3 linked regions of the Homo sapiens genome follow. The protein of the gene in region 1 purifies or fractionates together with the protein of each later gene. This does not show direct contact. Each region holds a gene or a part of one and is shown in the gene's direction. Other genes may lie near its edges. The genes, in order: DHDH, MYO19 and ZNF185.

Region 1 (3,749 bases):
GAGACTTCGTCTCAAAAACAAAAAACAAACAACAACAGCAACAAAAATTAGCAGGCTGGGTGCAGTGGCTCATGCTTGTAATCCCAGCACTTTGGGAGGCCAAGGCAGGCAAATCGCAAGGTCAGGAGATCGAGACCATCCTGGCCAACATGGTGAAACCCTGTCTCCACTAAAAATAAAAAAAATTAGCTGGGCATGGTGGAGGGCGCCTGTGGTCCCAGCTACTCAGGAGGCTGAGGCAGGAGAATCACTTGAACCAGGGAGGCGGAGGTTGCAGTGAGCTGAGATCACACCACTGCACTCCAGCCTGGGGATAGAGTGAGACTCCGTCTCAAACAAACAAACAAACAAATAGCGGTAAGTGGGGCACATGCCTATACTCCCAGCTACTCAGGAGGCTGAGGCGGGAAGATAGCTTGAGCCCAGGAGTACAAGGCTGCTGTGAGCTATTATCACGCCACTGCAGTCCAGCTAGGTAACAGAGTGAGACCCTATCTCTAAAATAATTAATAAATAAAACAAAATAATTAGCCAGGTGTAGTAGCCAGTAGCTACTTTGGGTCCCAGCTACTGTAGTCCCAGGTACTAGGGTGGCTAAGGCAGGAGCTAATTCCTTGAGCTAAGGAATTTGAGGCTGCAGTGAGCTATGATTGTGCCACTGCACTCCTTCCTGGGCGACAGAGCGAGACCCTATATCAATAATAATTATAATAATACAGTATATTTTACATAATAGACCATAGAGCTCAATGAATCCTCCTCACAACCCTATGTAGGTAGATGTTATCATGATCTCTGCTTTCCAGAATAGAAAAGTGAGGACCAGAGAGGGCGACCTCTTGTCCAAAAGCAATACAGCCAAGAAGGGGCAAGGAGGGTTTTGAAACCAGTCGGCCAGGCTCTGGGGCTCCTAACAAGCAAAGCAGCCTGGTTTCTAAAACTATAGCTTCTGGAAGCAGCCAATTCACAGGTCTTTACCTCCTGACTGTGAGACCTCCAAAAAATGACCAGGGATCTTGGAGTCTGTTTCCCCCTTTGTGAACTGGGGACAATAGAAGCTACTTCCCAGGTCTGCGGGGAGAAATTAGGAACGAAGAAGGTAAAGCGCAGAGCTGAGGAGCTGGTCTACAGGTGCTCTATACATATTAGTAATAATTATTAAGTTTGCTGTTACAATCCTCTCTCTCTCTGTGAACAACCCCTAATGATGCGTGGCTTTGAGAGCAAAAAAGTCAGGGCAAAGTTTTGCCACAAAGTCCAGAGGGCAAGACATTAAATCTAACTCTCAAGGATTGGTGTTGGCAAGAAAGCAAACCTCTCCTCCCCACGCTGTCCTTACCCCGCGTATCCGACGAGCCTAAAGTCATAGGTAAGAGATCTGTAGAAGCGACGTCAAGGTGTGGTTCCCTCTGTAAGGCGGAGCTAAACGGTGCATTCGCCCAGCGGGGAAGCTAGAACTAAATGACCGCTCTGCCGACTGGAGCCAACGAGAATCGGCGTAGGCGCAATACGGGCGGAGGATGGGGACCCGCCCCCGGGGTGGGCGGGGCGTCAGGTACTTAATTCGCGCCTGGAGGGACCGAAGGTGCCGAGGGCTCCGCATCGCAACCATGGCGCTGCGCTGGGGCATCGTGTCTGTCGGCCTCATCTCCAGCGACTTCACAGCCGTGCTGCAGACGCTGCCTCGCTCTGAGCACCAGGTCTGCCCGCCCTCCGGATTCTGGGGAAGAGGAGGCGGGGGGCGGGACTCCAGAGTCTAAAGGAGGAGGGAGTTTAGGGTTCAGGACTAGTGAGTGGGTCGTCATTGCAGTGAAACGTCTGTTTCCTTGCTACCTCCTTCTCCATCTCTGTTCTGCAAACCTGTGGGGAAAAGAAAGATCAGATTGTTACTGTGTCTACGTAGAAAATGAAGACATAAGAAACTCCATTTTGAACTGTACTAAGAAAAATTGTTTCTGCTTTGAGATGCTATTAACCTGTAACTTTAGCCCCAACCGTGTGCTCACAGAAACATGTCCTGTATTGAATCAAAGTTTAATGGATTTAGGGCTTTGCAGGATGTGCCTTGTTAACAATATGTTTGCAGGCAGTATGCTTGGTAAAAGTCATCGCCATTCTCCATTCTCTATTAACCAGGGGCACATTGCACTGCGGAAAGCCGCAGGGACCTCTGCCCAAGAAAGCCTGGGTATTGTCCAGGGTTTCCCCCCACTGAGAAAGCCTGAGATATGGCCTCGTGGGAAAGGAAGACCTTACATCCCCTAGCCCGACACCAGTAAAGGGTCTGTGCTGAGGAGGAGTAGTGAAAGAGGGAGGCCTCTCTGCAGTTGAGATAAGAGGAAGGCTTCTGTCTCCTGCTCTCCCTGGGAATGGACTGTCTCAGTGTAAAGCGGACCATTCCCATTCCTTCTATTCTGAGATAGGAGAAAACCTACCTGTGGCTGGAGGCGAGATATGCTGGCAGTGATACTGCTCTGTTACTCTTTGCTACACTGAGATGTTTGTGTAAAGTGAAACATAAATCTAGCCTACGTGCACATCCGGTCACAGCACCTTTCCTTGAACTTATTCATGATACAGATTCCTTTTCTACATAGACACAGTAACAATCTGATCTCTCTTTCTTTTCCCCACACAAACCTGAGTGTCTTGAGGTTTGGAAAGGCCTTGATGTAAGCTACTATGAAGATAATTTCAATATTGGGGGATTTAATAACGGCTTTCCCCCAGATCTCTCTTTCCCAGGGCCCAAATGTCCAGCCCCCGTCATCTCTTCCCCCAGGACCACGTCTCCCCTTCCCCTGGCCAGAGCCTCCTCCTTTGCCTCCCTTCCACCCAGTTTCCACGCCTGCCTCAGCCCCTCAAATCCGATTCTTGTGCCCCTCCAGGTGGTGGCGGTGGCGGCCCGCGATCTGAGCCGTGCGAAGGAGTTTGCACAGAAACACGACATCCCCAAGGCCTACGGCTCCTATGAGGAGCTGGCCAAGGACCCGAGCGTGGGTGAGTGGCGAGGGCGATGGGGGTGCTGGCCGCCGCCCCTGGAGCGGTGCCCCCTGGCTGCCCCCTGGGAGATGCAAGGCTCCTCAGGATGGTCCAATCCCTTTGGGTTCCATAAAGACCTTTGGCTGGGAGGAGAACTATAAAACGGGCTTGGTCTGGGACTGGCTGTCTAGTAGGTGTTAAACTACACTTAGCGTTCGAGACCAGCCTCGGCAACGTAGCAAGACCCAATCTCTACAAAAAATAACAATAAAAATAAATTAGCCAGGTATGGTGGCACGCACCTGTAATCCCAGCTACTGGGGAGGCTGAGGCAGGAGAATCACTTGAATCCGGGAAGCAGAGGTTGAAGTGAGCCAAGATCGCGCCACTGCACTCCAGCCTGGGCGACAGAGTGAGACTTGGTCTTAGAAATAAATAAATAGGCCGGGCGCGGTGGCTGACGCCTGTAATCCTAGCACTTTGGGAGGCCAAGGCGGGCAGATCATGAGGTCCGGAGATGGAGACCATCCTGGCTAATACGGTGAAACCGCATCTCCACTAAAAATACAAAAAATTAGCCGGGCATGGTGGCGGGCGCCTGTAGTCCCAGCTACTCGGGAGGCTGAGGCAGGAGAATGGCGTGAACCTGGGAGGTGGAGCTTGCAGTGAGCCGAGATCGCGCCACTGCACTCCAGCCTGGGCGAAGAGTGAGACTCCGCCTCCAAAAAAAAAATTAATTAATTAATTAAAAATTTTAAAAAAGAGAG
Region 2 (3,649 bases), on another chromosome or scaffold:
GTACTTATTTGCTGACTTTTTATTTTACCAAGTGTTGCCAGGCACTGGGCTGAGGCAGATGTTGAGGTTGGTGCTTGCCCTCAAGGAGCTCAGAGTCTAGTGGAGTCTTGGGTAGGTAAGTGCCTGACATCAGCAAGGTAGCAGCCAGGTGTGGGGCCTGCCAGCATCAAGGGAGCCATAGTAGACACTGCAGCTTGACCTTCCAGCCATATGGCTCCTGGAACAGGTTTGAAGGTAAGAAGTGGGCAAAACAGTTGACTGCTCTGGGCTTTTTTCTTGCTTATTTTTAAACTTTTTTTTTCTCTTATTAAAAAAAAGGTATATCAATACAATGGAATAAAGCAAGTTACACAAAAATATAATACTTTTCAATGTTTTTAAAGTATGTAGGGGAAAAAACCTATGATATTCTCTAAAATATTGGTTATTTCTGGGTAGTATGATTATGGATTTTTATGCTCCTTTTGCTTATCTCTATTTTCCAATTTTTTTTTTTTTTTTTTTTTTGAGATGGAGTCTCACCCTGTCATCCAGGCTGGAGTGTAGTGGCTTGATCTTGGCTCACTGCAATCTCTGCCTCCCAGGTTCATGCTATTCTCCTGCCTCAGCCTCCCGAGTAGTTGGGACTACTGGTGCTGGCCACCACGCCTGGCTAATTTTTTGTATTTTTTAGTAGAGATGGGGTTTCACCGTGTTAGCCAGGATGGTCTCGATCTCCTGACCTCGTGATCCACCCACCTCGGCCTCCCAAAGTGCTGGGACTACAGGCGTGAGCCACCGCGCCCAGCCTCCAAATTTTTTTTAATAATTTTTGTTTATTTATTTTTATTTTAGAGATGGAGTCTCACTCTGTAGACAAGGCTGGTCTCAAACTCCTGACCTCAAGTGATCCGTCTGCCTCAGCCTCCCAAAGTGCTTTTACAGGGGTGAGCCACCGCACCCAGCCGTGAGACCCTGTCTCTTAAATAAATAAATAAATAAGGCCAGGCACGGTGGCTCATGCCTGTAATCCCAATACTTTGGGAGGTCGAGGCGGGCAGATCACCTGAGGCCAGGAGTTCAAGACCAGTCTGGCCAACATGGCAAAACCCCATTTCTACTAAAAATACAAAAACTAGCCAGGTATGGTGGTGCATGCCTGTGATCCCAGTTACTTGGGTGGCTGAGGCATGAGAATCACTTGAACCTGGGAGACAGTGGTTGCAGTGAGCCGAGATTGTGCCACTGCACTCCAGCCTGGGCGATAGAGCGAGACTCTGTGTCAAAAAAAAAAAAAAATACAAAAGCCACTTTTACGCGTGCCTGTAGTCCCAGCTACACAGGAGGCTGAGGCAGGAGAATGGCGTGAACCCGGGAGGCGGAGCTTGCAGTGAGTCGAGATCGCGCCACTGCACTCCAGCCTGGGCGACAGAGCGAAACTCCGTCTCAAAAAAAAAAAAAAAAAAAAAAAGCCACTTTTAGAAGAAGAATAGCTAACCCCTTTTGGCAGATTCCAGATGGCCTTTCTAAATCCTTCGTGTGTTTTTGTGCTTGTGAGTATCTGTGAGGTAGGTACCATTATCCCATTTTACAGAAAAGAACTTTAAATAATTATTTAGAGACAGGGTCTCACTTTGTTGCCCAGTGCAGTGATATCCCCATAGCTCACTGTAGCCTCGACCTCCTGGGCTGAAGCAACCCTCCTGCCTCAGCCTCTAGAATAGCTGGGGTTACAGGCACATGCCATAATGCCCAGCTAATTTTTAAATATTTTTTATAGAGACAGGGTCACCTTGGCCTCCCTAAGTGCTGGGATTACAGGCTTAAGCCACTATGGCCAGCTGGAAATTTTTCTATTTTTATTTTTTACTTTAGAGACAAGGTCTTGCTCTGTTGGCCAGGCTAGAGTGCAGCGGTACAATCATAACTCATTGCAGCCTCGAACTTTTAGGCCCAAGTGGTTCTTCTACCTAAGCCTCCCAAGTAGCTGGGATTACAGGGACCAGATGAGGAGAATTGAGGCAGAAAGAGATTAAGAAATTAACATAAGAGTATATAACTGTAAGAGATAGAGTCAGGATTCAGAGCCAGACAACTAACTTTCAAGTCCAGGTACTTGATCACTATACTCAGATGCCTCTCTGGTTGGATCAGAACTCTTCATAAATTGTGTCTGTGTTTGTGAATGGTTTGTGTAGTGGTGGTTTTTTTTTCCCCTTCATAAAAGGAGAGGGATATGCATAGATATAGCTGTGCTCTGACCTCCGCAGTTACTCTGGAGGCCAAGAGCCTACCTTGTGCATTATAGTGGGCCCAAAGTTCAGAGAACAGGCAACAGTTTTGGAAGAAATGCATTACTGGGCCTCTTGGAGGAAATTTGCCACCATGGCTTATTTCTATGAGAGATTTGAAATTTTAGGCTCACCATTCTCATTGGAAATTCACCTGTTGTATCACAGACCTCTTCCTTCAAAAGCACATTTCAGCAAGATACCTGTCTTCAACCCCCACTCTGTCTTTCCTGCATCCCCAAAGGAGACAGTAGGAGAAATGGGACCACAGGAGGAAGTGGAGGGATGATACATCAAGAATGGGCAAAGGAAGATAGGGTGACTCATGCCTCTAGTCCCAATTACTCAGGAAGCTGAGGCAGAAGGATCACTTGAGCTCAGGAGTTGGAGGCTGCAGTGAGATATGATCATGCCACTGCACTGCAGCCTGGGTAGCAGAGCAAGACTCCATCTCTTAAAAAAGAAAGGAAAAAAAAAAGATAGGCAAGGGAGGAGAAAGGACCTGTTCCCTTGGTGCTTATTCTTGACCTCAGACAGCCGTCTGAGCCAGGCTTTCTCTCAAGCAGACTCGGGCCAAGGGAACCAATTCATTAGCCAGCCTAAATTTAAGCCACAAAAGGCAGGTGATGAAGACATGGGGCTACCTCTCTCAGAAGGTACAGCTGTTTTACATCAAAAGCTGAACTGTCTCTTCCCAAAAAGGCCTAACCCATGGTTCTTTTCCTTTGCAACATTCCTATAGCCTTATTTCTAATAAGGCTAGTAGCCTGGAAGTGCTACTTGCAAGTGGCCGGAGCTCTTGGCAGAAGAGATAGCATTTGTTGAGTACATGCTGTATGCCGGGCACTGACTAAATGCTTTGTATATCTCTTCTTTTCTTCCCAATAACCTTGTCAGTTGAGTTTATTTTCCTTTATTTACGAATAAACAAACTGTGACTCAAAGAGGGTAACTTACCCAGGCTCACAGGGCTACTAAGAGGCAGAACTGAAATTTGAACCCAACCAGACTATGATACCAGAGTCTCCTTCTACTATACAGGTTCCCACCCTTCTGTAGCTGCCAGCTGTTTTGAGTACCAGCTGTCGCGGCCTTCATGTTTTTTGGTTTTTTTTTTTTTTGAGACAGAGTCTTGCTCTGTCGCCCAGGCTGGAGTGCAGTAGCACAATGTTGGCTCACTGCAAGCTCCGCCTCCCGGGTTCACGCCATTCTCCTGCCTCAGCCTTCCGAGTAGCTGGGACTACAGGTGCCCGCCACCATGCCTGGCTAATTTTTTGAATTTTTTTTAGTAGAGACGGGGTTTCACCGTGTTAACCAGGATGGTCTCGATCTCCTCACTTTGTGTCCTGCCCGCCTTGGCCTCCCAGAGTGCTGGGATT
Region 3 (3,649 bases), on another chromosome or scaffold:
CCTTCCCCAGTTTCTAGCAGGCCATTAGCCAAGGGGCCACACAGGACAGTGTTAGTCCCCTAATATAAACTCCCATCTACCGGGCCTAGACATTCCCACACCTCCTTTTTCCTATCTCTGTAAGAGGCTGCAGTGGTACTTCCTAGTGCACTAGTGGATGTGGCTCTGCCATTCATGGGTCCATGCCTGGGAAGCCAGCTCCAGTCCGTGAAGGCCGGGCCTGTGAGGGCATTCCTGTGTTACTGTAAAGGAATACCTGAGGCTGGGACATTTATAAAGGAAAGAGGTTTAATTGGCTCACAGTTTGGCAGGCTGCACAAGCATGGCACCAGCAGCTGCTTGGCTTCTGGCAAAGGCCTCGGGAAGCTTATAATCATGGTGGAAGCCGAAGTGGGAGCAGGACCATCACATGGCACGAGCAGGAACAAGAGTGAGGAAGGGGAGGGCCCGGACTTTGAAACAACCAGATCTTGTGTGAACTAACTGAATGAGAACTCACTTTTCACTAAGGGGATGGTGCTAGCTGTTCATGAGGGATCCCCCCATGATCCCGTCACCTCCCTCCAAGCCCCACCTCCAACACTGGGAATCACATTTCAACATGAGGTTTGTCTGTCTCTGTCACATGCCCACTGCTTCACCTGCATTCCTGGCCACCTGTCAGGGTGCAGGAAGGGATGTCACTGCAGGAAGGCTGCTCAGTGAGGTGTGTGTGTTGGGGGCGGGAGGGGGGCATATCCAAGGGGGCCTCTGCAGACATCAGGTCAGCAGGCTGGAGTGTGCAGCATGGAAATGGGGGAAAATTTGGGGCCATCCTGAGCCCAGCATGATGCAGACCTTGTTTCCAGTCCTGCAGAGGCCAGTCCAGGATGAGGCAACCTCTAGGCCTCTGGACTCTAGGAGTGAGAATGGAGAGGTTAGATGTGAGGTGGAGATTGCACAGTAGCTGAGTACCTTCTGGGAAGTGCTGAGTGGTAAAGACTGACAGTGTAGGATTAAGGCTTGGAGGATATCTTGGTTGTGGGTAGAGGGGAAAGACGACGCAGCCCTAAAGTAGGGGTGGAAAGCCCACAGGACTGAAGTGTAGAAGTATAGAAGCCTGGGGAGAAGATGGGGTCACCGAGGTCTGCATGGAGGAGGACAGCACATTGTCATTGGTTGCAGGAAGCCCCTTTCTGGGGCCCTCAGTCCAAACACAACAAGAGACGCTCATGGCCTGGGATTGTAGTCTGAGTCCACAGCAGTGCCAGTGCCTTTATCCTGGGCCTTCCCATGAGCTCTTTCACTTCCTTCAAACCAGGCTGGGTCTCCCCAGCCCTGAACCACTCCTGTGGGCCAGGCCTGGTTCCCTGGAATCTTCTGGTGTACCTCTGATTTCTTCTGTGCTCCTTCTACAGCAAAGGGATTCTCTTCGTGAAGGAGTACGTGAATGCTAGTGAAGTGTCTTCTGGGAAGCCAGTATCTGCACGCTATAGCAAGTAAGAGCGGGTCCCAAACCCTTCCATGTCGGCCTTCTCCTGCCGGCTCCCATATTCTCATCCCTGCATTTCCAGTTCCTTGTCCAGGACTTGGCTCAGAGTAGCTTCGGGGTAATTGTCGAGTGGATGAGTGATGTAGTTGCCCTCTGATGGGATTGATGCATTTTCTACTGAACTGGGCACCTTTGGGTTCTCCCTTCCGGTGAATTCATCCTGCACACCATTTTCACTGCCATTCTGTTCTGCTTGTCTTTGTTATTTTATTTTGTAAAATGCTGAGAACACCCCTCTTGACAGAGCTGGCAGAGCCCTAGGGACCAACTAGCTCATCCTATTTCTTTTCAGATCACAGAGCTCTTCTCTTCTGCCCTCATGTTCTTTTCTGTCATGCCAGGCTGCCTCATTTGAACACACATGTGACTGCAGTTCCTGATACATGTGTGGCTTTGCTTTTTAATTTTAATTAATTAGTTAATTAATTTTAATTAATTTTTTTTTGAGATGGAGTCTTGCTCTGTTGCCCAGGCTGGAGTGCAGTGGCGCCATCTCAGCTCACCACAACCTCTGCCTCCTGGGTTCAGGCAATTCTCCTGCCTTAGCCTCCCTAGTAGCTGGGATTACAGGCGCCCACCACCATGCCCAGCTAGTTTTTGTATTTTAGTAGAGATGAAGTTTCACCATGTTGGCCAGGCTGGTCTCGAATTCCTGACCTCAAGCAATCCACCTGCCTCGGCCTCCCCTTTTCATTGATCATCTCTTCATTTTCTTGCTTTGTGATGCCATGTGGAGGGGTACTTCCATGTCACCTCGGTGTATTGCTACCTACCACACTGAGGTGAGGTCCCTTAGAATGTTTCTTATGACATGTCATCTCACTGGAGGATTTTAGCAACAGAGAGGAGCATCCTGGCCTTATTTCAGGATTGGGCCTCTGGGGCTTCTGGACTGGCTTTTATTGGTGCTGTGGAATGATGAGCATGGCTGTGGGGGTCAAGTTCAAGCCCCAGCTCAGGCCCCCCTGTTAGGATCACTTCGGACAAGATGTTCAACCTCTCTGAGCTTTGCTTTCACATCTGTAGGCCCTTAGGGTGGTTTTTCTCAACAGCTTATTGAGTTATAATTCACCCTTTAAAGTGTACAGTCCCGAGGTTTTGGTACATTCACAGAGTTATGCAAACATCATTATCCAATTCTGGAACACCTTTGTCTCCCCAAAAAGAAACTCCAAACCCGTCTGCACCCCCTAATTCTACCCCATAACTCAAGCACAGGTATTATACCAGAATGATCCCTTCTTTCTTCTCATTCCCAGTATCTGATTTCTGCTGAGTGGGCTCCTGGTGACTGTCACATTATATCATAGGTGGGGAGGAAAGCTCTGCTGTTTTCCCACTGGTCAGTGGGGTCCCCTTGGCATATACAACCTCAGGAATCCTAGCCACCCAGCCCCGATCATCTCCCTCATTGTGAAAGGTCTCCTTTGCCCCCCCATAGAAGGGCCCTGTGGCACCAAGTCATGAATGACGACTGGCATCGTAGTTATGTCTCAGCTTGTGGCCAAAGGTTAATTAGAAAATTAACTATGATAGTGATTTGGCTCTCATCTCTGCCCTCCTCTCCCCTATCAAACTCCCTGCAGCGTCAGCAGCATTGAGGACTCATTCGCCATGGAGAAGAAGCCTCCATGTGGCAGCACTCCATACTCTGAGAGGTATGTTGACTTTCTTAGCACGGAGCTTGCACTTCTACAGAGGAGAATCAGGGAAGGGAGAGTTCCTGCTGAGTCTGTTTGCTTTTGTCTTCTGCTTTGCAGCCTCCAATCCATTTGCAGAAAGGTGAAGGACACTACCGTAGGGTGGTGCTTCCCTTGTTGGGATATCACACTTGTGACAACTAAAGCCTTTGAATTGAGCTAAGACTAGAGGGTAGATACCAGCGGTGACTGAGAAGGGAAGTGGTGGCATCTGACAACCCAGAGGACTCGTGTCAGCAGGAGGGGCCCTTCAGATTAGAACCTAATCAATCACTTCATTAACTTGCAAATCTAACCAGAAGTAAAAATAAAATGACTACAAAAGAGAGGAGTGGGCAGAGAAGGAAGAAAAATGGGCTGCTGGCATCAAGAAGCCAGAAAGACACACAAAGCCAAGAATGCCCAGTGCTGTGGAGCC

What was found.
Region 2: the proteins of DHDH (region 1) and MYO19 purify together in Homo sapiens (affinity purification with mass spectrometry; one large-scale study listed by BioGRID and IntAct). This does not show direct contact.
Region 3: the proteins of DHDH (region 1) and ZNF185 purify together in Homo sapiens (affinity purification with mass spectrometry; one large-scale study listed by BioGRID and IntAct). This does not show direct contact.

The regions. Positions count from the first base shown.
Region 1 is NC_000019.10:48,932,112-48,935,860, forward strand, and holds the start of DHDH (trans-1,2-dihydrobenzene-1,2-diol dehydrogenase), read left to right. Parts: upstream 1-1,587; 5' UTR 1,588-1,610; coding exon 1,611-1,700; intron 1,701-2,888; coding exon 2,889-3,000; intron 3,001-3,749.
Region 2 is NC_000017.11:36,528,253-36,531,901, reverse strand, and holds part of MYO19 (unconventional myosin-XIX), read left to right. Parts: intron 1-32; exon of another isoform or gene 33-234; intron 235-834; exon of another isoform or gene 835-836; coding exon of another isoform or gene 837-926; intron 927-3,649. UniProt on the Homo sapiens protein: Actin-based motor molecule with ATPase activity that localizes to the mitochondrion outer membrane. Motor protein that moves towards the plus-end of actin filaments. Required for mitochondrial inheritance during mitosis.
Region 3 is NC_000023.11:152,964,050-152,967,698, forward strand, and holds part of ZNF185 (zinc finger protein 185), read left to right. Parts: intron 1-1,397; coding exon 1,398-1,478; intron 1,479-3,117; coding exon 3,118-3,189; intron 3,190-3,649. UniProt on the Homo sapiens protein: May be involved in the regulation of cellular proliferation and/or differentiation.